Linked DNA regions of Homo sapiens. The protein of the gene in region 1 interacts with the protein of each later gene in a pairwise test. Each region holds a gene or a part of one and is shown in the gene's direction. Other genes may lie near its edges.

Region 1 (7,622 bases):
ACATGGACACAGGGAGGGGAACAACACACACTGGGGCCTGTCAGGGGATGGGGGGCAAGGGGAGGGAAAGCATTAGGACAAATACCTAATGCATGTGGGGCTTAAAACCTAGATGATGGGGTTGATATGTGCAGCAAACCACCACGGCACATGTACACCTATGCAACAAACCTGCACATTCTGCACATGTATCCCAGAACTTAAAGTAAAATAATAAATAAATAAGAGGATTTACCACAGTTCAAGTTATAGATCAGAATTTTTTTTAAAGCCTGAATATTTAAATATTTAATTTGTCATGACATACAGTGTCTTAGTCTGTTCAGGCTGCTATAACAAAATACCTTAGACTAGATAATTTATAAACAAAAGAAATATATTGCTCGGGAAGTTGCAAAGTCCAAGATCAAGGTGCCAGAAGATTTGATGCTAGGCAAGCGCCCATTCTTCATAGATGTCGCCTTCTGTGTGTTCTCACATGGCAGAAGGGCAAAGAGGCTCCCTCTATTATAACAGCACTAAGTCCATTCCTGAGGATGGAACCCTCGTGACCTAATCATCTTACAAAGACCCCACCTCTTAATACCATCACCTCGGAATTTAGGCTACAACATATGAATTTTGGGGAGAACACAAACATTCAGACAATAGCATATACATATAATAGAATCACTGTGGAGCTCTTATAAACCATGTTTTGGTATAAATGTAATAATAGAATGAGTTCATGATATAATATAAGTGAAAAAGTAAGATATATAATTATAGGTACAGTATGATTACACTCTTTTATATAATGTATACAATGTATAATATGTGAAATATATATGTATGCATAATAAATACATGTACATAAAATATTTCCTGGTATGTACATGTGTATATATATTTTTCCATGTATATAATTTATACACATTAACAAAAAATGAGAAAATATGACAAATATTTAACAATAGCTATTTCTCCAGTGGCAGGATTACAGATAATTTTTATTTTCATACATTTCTGTCTGACTTTTCCAAATGTGCTATTATGAGCATAAATTTTATAATTAAATACAAGTCAATAAGCATTTTAAAGTGCCTATAACAGCCCATCAGCAAGTGAAGAGATGAGATAAAAATGTGTCTGCACTTGGTACACATATTGACTTTCTTTTACTTCCATTTCCAGATGATATTGACAAAGATATTGAAAAAATTTGATTAATATGCCTCAGCTTAGATTTGCTATGCGAGAGCAAAGTCTTATTGTTTTAAAGGAATTATTTGCTGATCAGCTATAGGCTGACTTGACCTCATATTCCTACCATGATAGTCCCACAGTGTAGGGATGGGGTGGTATGACTCCCAAGACTTGGAGTATGTTATTTTCTCAGGGCAATGAAGATTTGGAAAAATGATGGCAAAGACAGAATTACTATCTCATCAAAGACATCCCTCAGCAGTATCTGTGGGCTGTGCAGTGTTCTCAGTTCGATAAAGGATTAGAACACAATGCTTCTTTGGAGAGCTGTGACTTGATACTGCATCAATACCTTTCTGAGAATTGTTTTTCATTTTCTTGCCTCTTTAACTTATTAAGCCTTAGGAGAATTAGTTGAAAAGCCAAGTCTTTGGGGTAGATACTAACATTAAGTCTTCTACTCTGTCATTTGCAATCATAAATTCCAGAACACAGCTCCTAATTCCATTGTGTATTGTTTTCTAAGGGAATGATAGACAGATTCTTTATTTTTTTAAACCTCTAAGCCTACCACACTTGCCGAGTTCCTCACTAGTCACTAAGAAAGTCCTGCCAATCAATGCATGGGTTTATGTCCATTGCTCAGCTCTTCTCCAATCAGACTCATTCCCCCAGCATCCCTGACACACCACTCTAAAATGCGGCTGCTGATGGTTCACCTTCCTCACTTTTGTCTACAAATCTCAATCCTGCTGATTCCACAAATCCTACATCAAGCAATATCATTTTATGAGTCTTTCCACAACCACCCCTTCAGGGGATTCTTCAATTTCTGTCACACCGGAAGTCTTCAGAGTATCACCCTCAGAGCCAGGCAAGAGGGACCCCGGCTAGGGTTTCAGGCTTTAGAGAGTCCAGCTCTGACTCCTTTTGGCCATAGGACTAATGTGATATGCCCACCTGGAGCCTGTGCCCTCCTTTCTAGACCATGCCCTGGGACTCAGAATCCCTTGCCCCAGATGGCCACACAATCACTTTCAGGTCCATTCTCTCTGGGCAGACAACATCACAAATGTGTGTACCCCAAGGCCTGAGGCCAAGAAGGCAGCTTTCTGGCTGTAGGGGCTGAGGTGTTCACACACATTTGCATGGCCCCTCAAGACAAAGAACAAGGGGGAAAGTGAGAAGAAAAGAAGCAGCCAGTGATCAGGGCCAGCTCTTGCAACTTAACCATGTTGGGTCATTCTGATTAAACCACTTAGCTCAAGTGTAGTGCTCAAGACACTTAGCACATTCTCCAGCTGAATTTACCAGTGTTCATGGACTACCTGGGTTAGAAATATATTTCACTATAAAGTAGCATACAAAATGAGCAGAAAGGGAGTTAATAAGATTAATAATAGAGTTAGTGAATATTATGAGCTGAGTTTTTGAGAAACGTAATTTCTTTCAACACTAATAACAACCTTGTGGGGGTTCATTGTCTCCCTTTAAAAATTAGGAAACCAAGGCTTTGCCATGGTCGCATAGGAGGGTCAGAATAGCATCTTTATGACCCCAGAGCATACTCCTCTCCACTCCACCTACCCATGTGTACAACTCAGACACTTTCTGGGATGTCCACGTCAACTATTCTTTAAAGAGTAACCAACAGATGGATAGTTTTCTGTTTGTGAATCAATGGTAGGTGACTGAAAAATTGGTTCTGAGAGGTCGTTTTGCAAGGATTGATGGTCACAGGCTGAGAAGCAGATTTGAAAGACCTACCTGCTAGCAGCATGAAGAGCTGCTCTTCCTTATCTTAGTATTAACTAGTTAATTATTGGAGGTGGGTGCAGGGGTGGATTATGTGTATTCTTAATTGTTGTAGAGTGGGGACTGGGAGTTACAAAGACTTTTGCAATTTTCGACCTTGCAGAGCTGAGCAATTTTCAGTTGCTTTGCTTGCTGATAGCACTGCTTCCCTTATCTACCATGGAACACATCTTAATGAAGAATTTGCATTCACAGCATCAGGTTAATGAATACAAAACAAAACAGTGTATATCCCTCTGATGGATGGGATTTCGGAAGCACAGACATTATACACATATTTGATGATAAAGTACTAGAAGTGCAGGGAATTGAGGTCAAGCTTCCTCCTAAGGGGACTGAATCCCAGAGAGAGCAGGTGACTTAGTAATGAGAAGTGGAGCTGTCTGTTCAACCAGGATGCTCCTCCTATGGCACGAAATTCAGTTTTAAAAATATATTAAATTCAAATCAAATGTGTTAGGTGTGAGTTCTATCCCTACAGGTATGAGGCAGAGGTGGAGGACTTTGTATACAATAGAGAAATAAATACATATATTAGGTCTTCCATGACATAGGATTTACTGACCCTCTCATGGGCATTCCTCTGAGGCATTTTGAGATTTATTGCTATAAAAGAGCCTCCCAAACATTATCTCACTTAGAAAAGGTAATCATATTAATATGATTTTGTTCACAGGAGAGAATTTAAGTGCCACTGCTTAAAGTTATCTCCTTGTTCCTAGGTTTAAGGAGACCTAGTAAATAAGAACATTCCACTTTGTCTGCATCAATAAAGATGAAAGATGACTTAGGAGGTGGGAATTGGAGTGGGAAACATTTTTCTATGTTCCCGATATTCTGAAACACATGTGACTTTATTCAATCACAAGGTAAACAGATTATGTAATTTACCAGAAAAAAAGTAATAAGACTGGTGGTGCTAGGTTTTCATACTCCAGCTATTAATGAATTAAAGAGAGTAACACTCCTGAAAGGATACCATTTTCTCAAGAAAACTGGAAAAGATTGTGTGGCATTTAAAAAATACCAAACTCTGTGGCCATAATGCTCTTAAAATTCATCTGTCTAAAGAAATTAGAAGTGAATCATATTAAATAAGGTTTAGATATGTCCACTTTATCTTCCTGAAAATATAATTTCATTACAATCAGATTTGTCATATTTTATCTGATTTTACTTGCTATTTAAAACACCTTATAATTTACTTGCATATTTAGAATTACAATATTCTTAATATACTTCTTGATCTTAACAAAACCTAGGCCAAATGTTAATCAAATCAAGCTGTTCAAAGTTACTTTATAGCACATTCCTATGAACACACCATACACACAGCAATATCTAGCAAGGGTGTCAATTTTTCGTTATTTTTAAAAGCTCATTTAAAGAAGTTATTTACTACAAATGACTCTACACACACACACGCGCGCGCGCGCGCGCACACACACACACACACACACACAAACCTTTTTAAAGAAACGCTAGAACCCAACCCCCTCTAGGCCAGAGGAAAACATTACAGCTGTATACGCACTTGTGCCTGTTGCCGTAGAGTAATACGGTAGCAGCAGGAGATTACGGTACTAGCTGGGCTACTGCCTGAGTTACGTCAGCGAGAGCTGCAAAGTTCCTTGCTATTCTTTTCTGGTGTCGGGGAGCTGAATATTAAAAGGGTGATTGTGGAGTTACCGGTTATCTGCATTTTTTTTTCTTTTCTTATTTTGACTCTTTTTAAAAAATGCAGGTAAAGTGACAGCGGTTCAGGAGCTTAAAGACATCAGTGGTGGAGGGGTGAGTCAGCGGGTGCAAAAGGACAAGGATTTGGTGCCTCGGAGACACGGTCCCCTCTCCGCCTCCAGAGAAGAGCAGGCAGGCAGCTCCCGGGACCGAAGCCGGGTCCACATCCCCCGCGCGCGAGCTGGTGGCTCAGCAGCGGCGCTTCAGGTGAGTGCGCCGGGGCCGGCGTCCCGCAGGGCCGAGTGGGTGAGGGCAGACCTCCCCCGCCGTCTGGTGAGACGGAACCCCCACTTTTCCCAGCGCCTCCCGCTTTTTCCACCAGGTTTTATACCGGCCCCTCTACCCCACCCCCGATTCCCTTACATCTTCTGCGAAGTTGCCTTCTACTGAACAAGTGTCTTTTTAACCCTGTGTTTATCACCCTCGAGGTAGGAGGAAAAGGGTTTCTGCAGTGGCACGTTTTTAATACCACCTGTGAGGTCTCCAACTTGCGATTTTAACAAGAGTCTTTGCCCGAGGTCCCACCTCAGGGCCCAACCCCAGAAGGCAAGGTGGGCACTTCCTCACGCCGCGCTGTCCTGCCGAGTCCCTGCGGTAGGTTCGCAGTTGTGGAAACCCAGGTTTCTTACGCAGATGGTGGCCCCCAGCCCAGAAAATCGAAGGCGGCCCCTGCCCGCTGGCATGCCGGCTTAATGTTTACGCCTGCAAAATCCGCAGTGACTGTCACTTGCAAAGCTCCCTCTGCAGAGGGACGTCCTCCCCACCCCGTCCCCCGCCAGTCCCGCTACGGCTGGCAGCTGGAGCCCCTCGGGTGGCCAACAGTGAGGCTTGGAAAGGCGTCGTGGACAGACCTGGGTCGCTTTCTGTCTTCGGGTCCCTCCCGGCTTCGCTCGGGACCTGGCTCTCAAGCCAGCTTGGCTGGTGGACAGACCGGTGCGCTCTGCACACCCGAGTGCGAATTCCACCGGCGTGAGAGTGAGCGTGCTCGTGGTCCTGGCCCTGAGGTCCCTGGGTCGCAGCTGTTCCCTCTCCCAGGCCGCCCCCTCCAGGTGACTGCGAGGCAACCTGTTCTAACGGAAACCGAGTACATCCTCCAGAATTCCCCGGCTAGGATCCGTGCGACACACTCGCCAGCCGCAGTCGCCCCTCCGGGGCTTCGAGGATTTTAATTTCGTGGTACCTGCGCTCGAAATCCAGACTTCGAGCGCTGGAGCCTGGGGTTTTGGGGATTTGTTTTTTTGTTTGTTTTTCGCTTCGGATCCTGAACTCGGGCAGAGGTGACTCAGTAGAGTGCGCTAGGCAGGTTCCCAGTGGTGGGGGCGCGAGATGAGCTCCGAAGTCGCCTCCACCGCTGCCGGGCGAAGCAGCTTCTGGACCGCAGAACCAACCCGGCTCCCAACTGGTGTCCCCCAACCCGTCAAGCTCAGCACAGCCTCTTTCCCTGGGGCGCCTAGCTCAAAGCCGCCTTTCTCTTTGCGCTCTTTCAGGTGGACGCGGTCAAACGATGCCCCGCAGCCTCCTGGGTCTCAGCACATATTCCACACCTACGTCCCCTGACCTGTGCTCCTAGAAGCTGGAGAGAGCAGGAGCCTTCGGTGGGGCAGCTCAAAATGTAGGTAACTGCGGGCCAGGAGCAGCGCCCAACCTGTAGCGCTGCGCTACCCAACCATCGGTCCCTGCCTTTGAGCGTCGACGGCTGATCTTTTGGTTTGAGGGAGAGACTGGCGCTGGAGTTTTGAATTCCGAATCATGTGCAGAATGCTGAATCTTCCCCCAGCCAGGACGAATAAGACAGCGCGGAAAAGCAGATTCTCGTAATTCTGGAATTGCATGTTGCAAGGAGTCTCCTGGATCTTCGCACCCAGCTTCGGGTAGGGAGGGAGTCCGGGTCCCGGGCTAGGCCAGCCCGGCAGGTGGAGAGGGTCCCCGGCAGCCCCGCGCGCCCCTGGCCATGTCTTTAATGCCCTGCCCCTTCATGTGGCCTTCTGAGGGTTCCCAGGGCTGGCCAGGGTTGTTTCCCACCCGCGCGCGCGCTCTCACCCCCAGCCAAACCCACCTGGCAGGGCTCCCTCCAGCCGAGACCTTTTGATTCCCGGCTCCCGCGCTCCCGCCTCCGCGCCAGCCCGGGAGGTGGCCCTGGACAGCCGGACCTCGCCCGGCCCCGGCTGGGACCATGGTGTTTCTCTCGGGAAATGCTTCCGACAGCTCCAACTGCACCCAACCGCCGGCACCGGTGAACATTTCCAAGGCCATTCTGCTCGGGGTGATCTTGGGGGGCCTCATTCTTTTCGGGGTGCTGGGTAACATCCTAGTGATCCTCTCCGTAGCCTGTCACCGACACCTGCACTCAGTCACGCACTACTACATCGTCAACCTGGCGGTGGCCGACCTCCTGCTCACCTCCACGGTGCTGCCCTTCTCCGCCATCTTCGAGGTCCTAGGCTACTGGGCCTTCGGCAGGGTCTTCTGCAACATCTGGGCGGCAGTGGATGTGCTGTGCTGCACCGCGTCCATCATGGGCCTCTGCATCATCTCCATCGACCGCTACATCGGCGTGAGCTACCCGCTGCGCTACCCAACCATCGTCACCCAGAGGAGGGGTCTCATGGCTCTGCTCTGCGTCTGGGCACTCTCCCTGGTCATATCCATTGGACCCCTGTTCGGCTGGAGGCAGCCGGCCCCCGAGGACGAGACCATCTGCCAGATCAACGAGGAGCCGGGCTACGTGCTCTTCTCAGCGCTGGGCTCCTTCTACCTGCCTCTGGCCATCATCCTGGTCATGTACTGCCGCGTCTACGTGGTGGCCAAGAGGGAGAGCCGGGGCCTCAAGTCTGGCCTCAAGACCGACAAGTCGGACTCGGAGCAAGTGACGCTCCGCATCCATC
Region 2 (7,024 bases), 4.7 Mb from region 1:
CTAATCTCAGATCCCCACAATTCCTAGAAAATGAGTACACCTTTGTTCTCTTTTACGATTATTGTCAATTCTTGCTATTTATGGAAGTTATAGAATAACTTTATAGTTACTCTGTACAGTCACTGAAAACATTAGCAAATACTGACCCATTGCTCCTAGGGAAAATACAGGGTCAGGTTCCTTCAAGCCTCTGGTCACAACATTTTTGTCAACTGATCAGTGCATCACCTTGTTTTATGAGTGTTTCTTTTTAAAGACACCTTACTTAATATGGAGCTGATTCATTAACATTGAACTCATGACCAACAGCACTCTAACTCATGCCTCGAAGAAGCTTACCTAGCACACGTATGTTCTCTGTGAGGCATATCACAGCCTTCTTGCCCTTGGGAACACCAGAGAGCACTTCAGCATTATGCTCAGGGGCTGTTTTAAACAGCGAAACCCTCAACAAAGCGCACAAAAACACAAAAAACAGGGCACTTTAACTAGACCTCAAAAAGGACACTTGGTTACACAATGAGAGCCGAAAGCAGAAAGCGGAGCGTTGCCTTATTCCACCTCAGCTGGGAACATGCATGTTGGGTGACTGAAATTTTTCACTGCTCTGCAAATGTCCACAAATGACCGTGAAAGCCCTGAGAGTATTGATTTTGGGGACTACGAATAAATTTTAGCCAGTAGACAAATTTGCAAGCACAGAATCCATGAAAAATGAGGTTTGACTATGCTTTTGCTTTCCTCCTCTTTCTCTCCACTCACTAGTCACCATGACTTCCTCTCTCAGTTCCAGGAAACACTTCTACCCCCAGCTGCCAGAGCACCAACGGGCAGCCTCAGAGGGGAGCCTGTGGGAGATGGAGAGGTAGATCCCGTAGCCGGCGGGCGGCGACGTCCCGACCAGAGCGTGTGTGGCCCGATGGGGTCATCCCCTTTGTCATTGGGGGAAACTTCACTGGTGAGCGTGCTATTGTGGGTCCCAGAGTGTAACCAGCTTCCGGGCCTGGCCTTGTGGCAGCCCTGCCAGGCACGGAGGCGTGGGTGCCACCTGCAGCCCGAGTGCCCACACATTCCTTTCCAGGCAGTCTGCCCTCAGAATGGCTGTGACTCTTCAGTGGTGGGTAGGGGGTGGGACTGCCTGGACACCGTGGCAACCTGGCTTCCTTCCTCCTGGCAGGTAGCCAGAGGGCAGTCTTCCGGCAGGCCATGAGGCACTGGGAGAAGCACACCTGTGTCACCTTCCTGGAGCGCACTGACGAGGACAGCTATATTGTGTTCACCTATCGACCTTGCGGGTGAGCAGGAAGCCCTAGGCGCTGTACCTTCCGCCATTGCCCCAACCCAGGTTCTGCCCTGGGCCCTGCCACTGCCCCCAGCTGGGCACAGCCTTGGGTCCCTTTATCCCCTCCTGCTATGGGGCATCTACCCAGGAACTGCCCCCTGTGCGGCTGTGACCTCCAGCACACAGCCTGGGCACTCGGTGCTCAGGGCCCACCCCTCCCCTTCGCTCCCCTGCCGCCCCGCCCCCGGCAGCCTGGCCCCGCCCCTGAGTGGATGCACTCCCCCAGCTCGGGACCGCCCCCCTGAGCTGGCCCCGCCCTCCAGGTGCTGCTCCTACGTGGGTCGCCGCGGCGGGGGCCCCCAGGCCATCTCCATCGGCAAGAACTGTGACAAGTTCGGCATTGTGGTCCACGAGCTGGGCCACGTCGTCGGCTTCTGGCACGAACACACTCGGCCAGACCGGGACCGCCACGTTTCCATCGTTCGTGAGAACATCCAGCCAGGTAGGTACCTGCCCCTCGGTGCGGCCTTGGTGGGCGGCTCCCGCCCCAGCCCCCACCTCCAGGACCCCTGGGGGCAGTGGCAGCCGCTCCAGCCAGCCGTCATCGCCTGGGCCCGCAGCGCTGCCCACAGCCTGGGTTGAGCCAGCCCCTGCCCTTGAGGCATTTCCTCCTCCGTGTCAGATCAAGGACCCGCATCCATTGTGGAGCTCCTCTGGGAGGCTGGGCCAGGTCCTGGTCCTGGACAGCGGTAGCCCGGGCAGCCTCTAGGGTGGGGCATGGGCATAGTGGGCCGTCCTGGGGACTGCTCAGGCCTTTCTCCCCACCTTTGCCCACTATCTGCCCTCTGCCTGGTCTGCCCTCCGAGGGCTTTTCTCTCATTTTCTCGATGTCTCTGTCCCTCCCTTCCCGCCTCCTCCCTCTCTCCCAGGCGTTCTCCACTCTTCACTGCTCCTTCTCAGCTGTGGCTCTAGAAATGGTGCTTCCTTCCCATGTTCCCTTGAGTCCTCCATTCACCAGGCCCTCTGCTGGACAGGACTCTTCCTGAGACCCTCCCCATTCCCCAGGCTCCCCTTGGCTGCTCCCCGGACCCTCAGGTAGGGGGACTCTCTCAGATACAGGAAGGACTCCATTCCCTGCCCTGGAAAGTGAGCGTTGCATCCCAGGCAGACCCACCCCCTCCTCTCCCCCCACACCCTTTTCCTGATCTTGGCAGGGCAGGAGTATAACTTCCTGAAGATGGAGCCTCAGGAGGTGGAGTCCCTGGGGGAGACCTATGACTTCGACAGCATCATGCATTACGCTCGGAACACATTCTCCAGGTGGGAGACGGGATTGGGGCTGGGCCTCTGCTCGGGCAGCCCCACCCTGCCCTCTGTAGGCTATTCTCCTCCTGCCTCCCACTTCTGGGGCAGTGACCCAGGAAAAGAGTGGCCCTCTGGGGGGCTGTGGCCTCCAAGCAGAGGGTCCGTGGATGTTGCCTGCCCTCCTGTCCTCTTCCACGGGTGGGTCTGTGGCAGGGCCTTACCACCGTGTGCACCCAGGGCACCTGGCGGAGGAGGCTGAACCCAGCCACTCTGCAAGCCCAGCAGTGTGGGGTAGCCCCAAACTATCAGCCCAAAGGGTGCTGAGCTTTTATTTGTGGGCCATTTGTTTGTTTTTGTTTTTGTTTGAGACAGGATCTTGCTCTGTCACCTAGGCTGGAGTGCAGTGGCACAGTCATGGCTCACTGCAGCCTCAAACTCCTAGGCTCAAGGAATCGTCCCGTCTCAGCCTACTGAGTAGCTAGGATGACAGGCACACGCCACCGTGCCTTTTTTTTTAGAGATGGGGTCTCACTATATTGCCCAGGCTGGTCTCGAACTCCTGGGCTGAAGGGATCCTCCCACCTCGGCCTCCCAAAACGCTGAGATTACAGGCGCGAGCCACCAATGCCCAGCCATTCCTTTTTAATTAGTCTGCTTTTTTTGTAATTGGCCAGTTTGCACGAAGCCTGACCCCTGCCCTGGACTAGCCCCCATGCCCAGCTCCGAAGCACATCCTCCTTATCTGAGGCCCAGGTCCCCAGAAGCCACAACCAGAGCCCTCAAAGGTGGTGGCCCAGCCTCCCCTCCCCCAAGATTCTCCTTAGCAGTGTGGGAAATGGCACCTCCCTCCTCCTCAAACTCCTTCCTGGCCTGGCCATTCCCAGGCCTGGTGCTTTGCTCATCCTCTGTCTGTGTCCCAGACAGTGGCCCTGCCCCCTCTTCTCAGTGCTTCTACCCGATCTGCTCTTCCTGCCTGCAGACCTGCAGGAACAGAGACCAAGGAAGGGTGGTGAGGTCATTCTGCCCCCCACACCCACAGACCCGGCCTTACATTTCCCACCACATCCCACCCCACCCCCTGCTGCGATCCACCCAGCTGGGTGTGAGTCAGGGGCCCTGGGGAGGTGGAGGGCTGCCTGCCTCCCCTTCACTCTGCTCCTCCCAGTGCAAACACCCAGGATTCAGCAGGGAGGAATGGCCAGGACAGGAGACACTGATAGATTGGGAGCTGGTGGGGCTGTCCCCGGGGCTTGGTCTGGCTGCAGTGGAATCTGCCTTTGGCCTTGTTCCAGGTGCTTTCAGATGCAGCCTGTGCCAGCAGGGTGAGGAGCTGGCCTGGGGAGTCCTGGGAGAAGTTTAGTTAGGGCTGGAGCAGCATGAGGGGCTGCAGAAGCAGGGGCCCAGTGGGGCTGGAGAGAGATGACCCGCTAGGGGCCTGTAGCTTTCCTGGGGCTGGGAGTTGTGGCCAGCCTGAGCTGGGAGCACCAGTGGGTCCAAGGGCACCCTGGACCTGCATCCCTGACCTCCCAAAGTGTTCCTGGGGCTCCCCCGACTCCTGTGGTGTGGCTGCCACGGAGCAGGGTGGCTGCTGGTCAGTGGGTAGCATAATGACAGGGTGAGACGACTCCACCCGGCCCTGACCCTGCTGAGGAATGTCTGAGCTCCAGCAGGGTCGTGACTTGTGGGTACAGATGGGCATGCCACCCACTCCCTGCCCACTGTCCATGAGACGCTCACCCTTACTTTTCTCCCTCTTCTTCAGGGGCATCTTCCTGGATACCATTGTCCCCAAGTATGAGGTGAACGGGGTGAAACCTCCCATTGGCCAAAGGACACGGCTCAGCAAGGGGGACATTGCCCAAGCCCGCAAGCTTTACAAGTGCCCAGGTCAGGGCAGAGAAGGGATGGGTGAGGGCGTGGAGGGCAGGGCCTGAGGGAGGCAGAGGCCAGGTGCCTGGTGCCACCAAGAAGGCTTAGGCTGCAAGTCTTAGAGAATGGTGTGGCGGGGGAGGGGACCCCATAGGAGGGGCAGTGTCCAAGTGAAGGAGGCCGCTGGGGGTAGGCTCAGGTGGGTGGTCAGAAGCCGAGCCGCCACCTTCTGAGGGTCTGTAGGGGCGGAAGTGGGGAGAACAGCAATCCTAGGAGAGGGAGGTGGCACGGAGCCCCACCAAGGGAGCTTGACCTTAGCTCTGGAACCCATATTGCCTTCACAAACAGGGCAGCACTGGGCTGGGAGGTAGGATGGCGTGTGCTATATGTGAGGTAGGGGGGTGGATCTTATAGGGGCAGGACCATTGCAGACACCCTCCCACTCCTCAGGCATTCTCCCCTCCCCCAGAGGATGCCAAGGTTCAGGGGTGGGTGAGCCAGAAGATGGGGGGATTTGGCGCCTGCAGCCCTGCCCTGTCATTTCCTTTCCTCACAGCCTGTGGAGAGACCCTGCAAGACAGCACAGGCAACTTCTCCTCCCCTGAATACCCCAATGGCTACTCTGCTCACATGCACTGCGTGTGGCGCATCTCTGTCACACCCGGGGAGAAGGTACGTGTGGGCTCAGCCTCTGAGCCTCCCCCTCCCCTGCGGGTCCCCATACCTCAGGGACTTCTCCCACAGTGGGGGTCAATATGGGTGCCAGCGACCTACCTGGCTACCGTAAATGTATCAAGTCCAGAGCGCTGATGGAGCACGGCTGTAGGAAGGGGCTCCTGGCATTCACCGCCTTCCCTGGCATCTCCCAATAATTATAAATTAGTGTTAATTTGCACATAGCACTTGCTGTGTAGGTCTATTTTGATTATCTAGTTCTTCTTGGGTGATTTTCCTACATCACCTCTTTTAGTTTTTACGGCTACCTCCACCTTTATTTTACAGATGAGGAAACTGAGGCACAGGGTGGTTAAGTAACTTGCCCAAGGTCACACAGCTAACAAGGACTGAGGTGGGACTGGAGCTCTTCTCAGGTCTGGGTTCCCTTGGATGAACTGCTCAGCCTGACGCTCAGCTCTCATCCGTCTCATCAGGGCTTGGGCCAGGGGCTCCTGAAGGGCTCTTCCCGATTCTGACAGGCTCTAGTCCTGGGAACAATTAAGGAATGATGCAGGCGCCTCCAGCAGGATGCTGCCTGGTGGGTCTCTCCTTCTCACCCATCCTTCCCCTTGCTCAGGCCAGGACCCTCCAGTCTTTGCTCTGTGGGCCTGATTTTCTGTGCCTGGCTCTCCACTGGCACTCTATTTCTCCTCCCTCTACCTGTCACCTGCTATATCAGTTCTGATCCATAGAGAAAGCTCAGCTCCACCTTCTGTCTTACCTTGTGGGGAAGTACCCAGTTCTCATACTTGCTGCCACGTGGGGCTGGCTTCGGGCATACTACGGGATCGGGTCAGAGCTGTCTCCATCTTCACAGTCTAGCTCGGATGTGACCTCCTTCAGGAAGCCTTCCCTGCTCGTTACTAATTGGTGGCAAGTAGGGTGGACACCGAGTGTGGGGAGGGCCCCCGAGCCTGTCCGGTCAGGTTTCCCACTGCATGGTTGATTAGCCCTGTTTGAATACCTAAGGTGATGAGAGGCTCACTACTTTTCAGAATAATTCATTCTGTTCTCTAGCCAGCTCTTTTTTTTTTTTTTTCTTGAGACAGAATCTCACTTTTTCACCCAAGGTGGAGTGCAGTGGCGCGATCTCAGCTCACTGCAACCTCTGCCGCCCAGGGTCAAGCGATACTCCCACCTCAGCCTCTGGAGTAGCTGGGACTGCAGATGTGCGCTACCATGCCCGGCAATTTTTTTTCTATTTTTGGTCGAGACAGGGTTTCGCCATGTTGCACAGGCTGGTCTCGAACTCCTGAGTTCAAGTGATCCTCCTGGCTCAGGCTTCCAAAGTGCTGGGATTACAGGCGTGAGCCACCGCATCTGGCCTGTAGCCAGCTCTTAATGTTACAACGTCTCTTCTTCTCCCTTAAGCCCCCCAGTTGCTCCAGTACTTTCCTCAAGAGCAATGCAGGATAACTCACTCCCTCTTTCCCATGTCAGCCCTCCTAATGTGGGGAGGCTACTCCCATCACTTCTTAGATCCATTCCCGGTCTTTTCACACAGACTCTGGACCTCCGCACCAACCCCAGACCTTCTGTGTCCATATTTTTATTGCTCCCAAGCTACAAGACTTTATTTTCCTTGATTGGGGCATGGTTCTTAATGTCATAGTGCAGCGTTGAGCTGGATTCAATTCTATTATTGATTGCATTGTTCATTTCGACATCTCAAGATCATTTTGAATCAGAATTTCACCATCCATCAGGTAGCCCTCCTCTTACCTCTGCCATGAGCTCCTTTGATAAGCATGACTTCTAGGTCTTCGTCCTGGCCTTTGATCAAAACATAGAACAGCACACAAACCAAAGAAGAACCAAGATTTCCCTCCAAATTGGCATTAATCTTTTAAT

The links. Proteins that work in one complex are often made in the same cells at the same time.
Region 2: the proteins of ADRA1A (region 1) and BMP1 interact in a two-hybrid assay, tested with the Homo sapiens proteins (one study listed by IntAct).

Annotation. Positions count from the first base shown.
Region 1 is NC_000008.11:26,864,258-26,871,879, reverse strand, and holds the start of ADRA1A (alpha-1A adrenergic receptor), read left to right. Parts: upstream 1-4,601; 5' UTR 4,602-4,944; intron 4,945-6,224; 5' UTR 6,225-6,910; coding exon 6,911-7,622. UniProt on the Homo sapiens protein: This alpha-adrenergic receptor mediates its action by association with G proteins that activate a phosphatidylinositol-calcium second messenger system. Its effect is mediated by G(q) and G(11) proteins.
Region 2 is NC_000008.11:22,175,356-22,182,379, forward strand, and holds part of BMP1 (bone morphogenetic protein 1 isoform 3 precursor), read left to right. Parts: intron 1-787; coding exon 788-958; intron 959-1,177; coding exon 1,178-1,295; intron 1,296-1,568; exon of another isoform or gene 1,569-1,605; coding exon 1,606-1,784; intron 1,785-2,496; coding exon 2,497-2,602; intron 2,603-4,349; coding exon 4,350-4,474; intron 4,475-5,012; coding exon 5,013-5,128; intron 5,129-7,024. UniProt on the Homo sapiens protein: Metalloprotease that plays key roles in regulating the formation of the extracellular matrix (ECM) via processing of various precursor proteins into mature functional enzymes or structural proteins.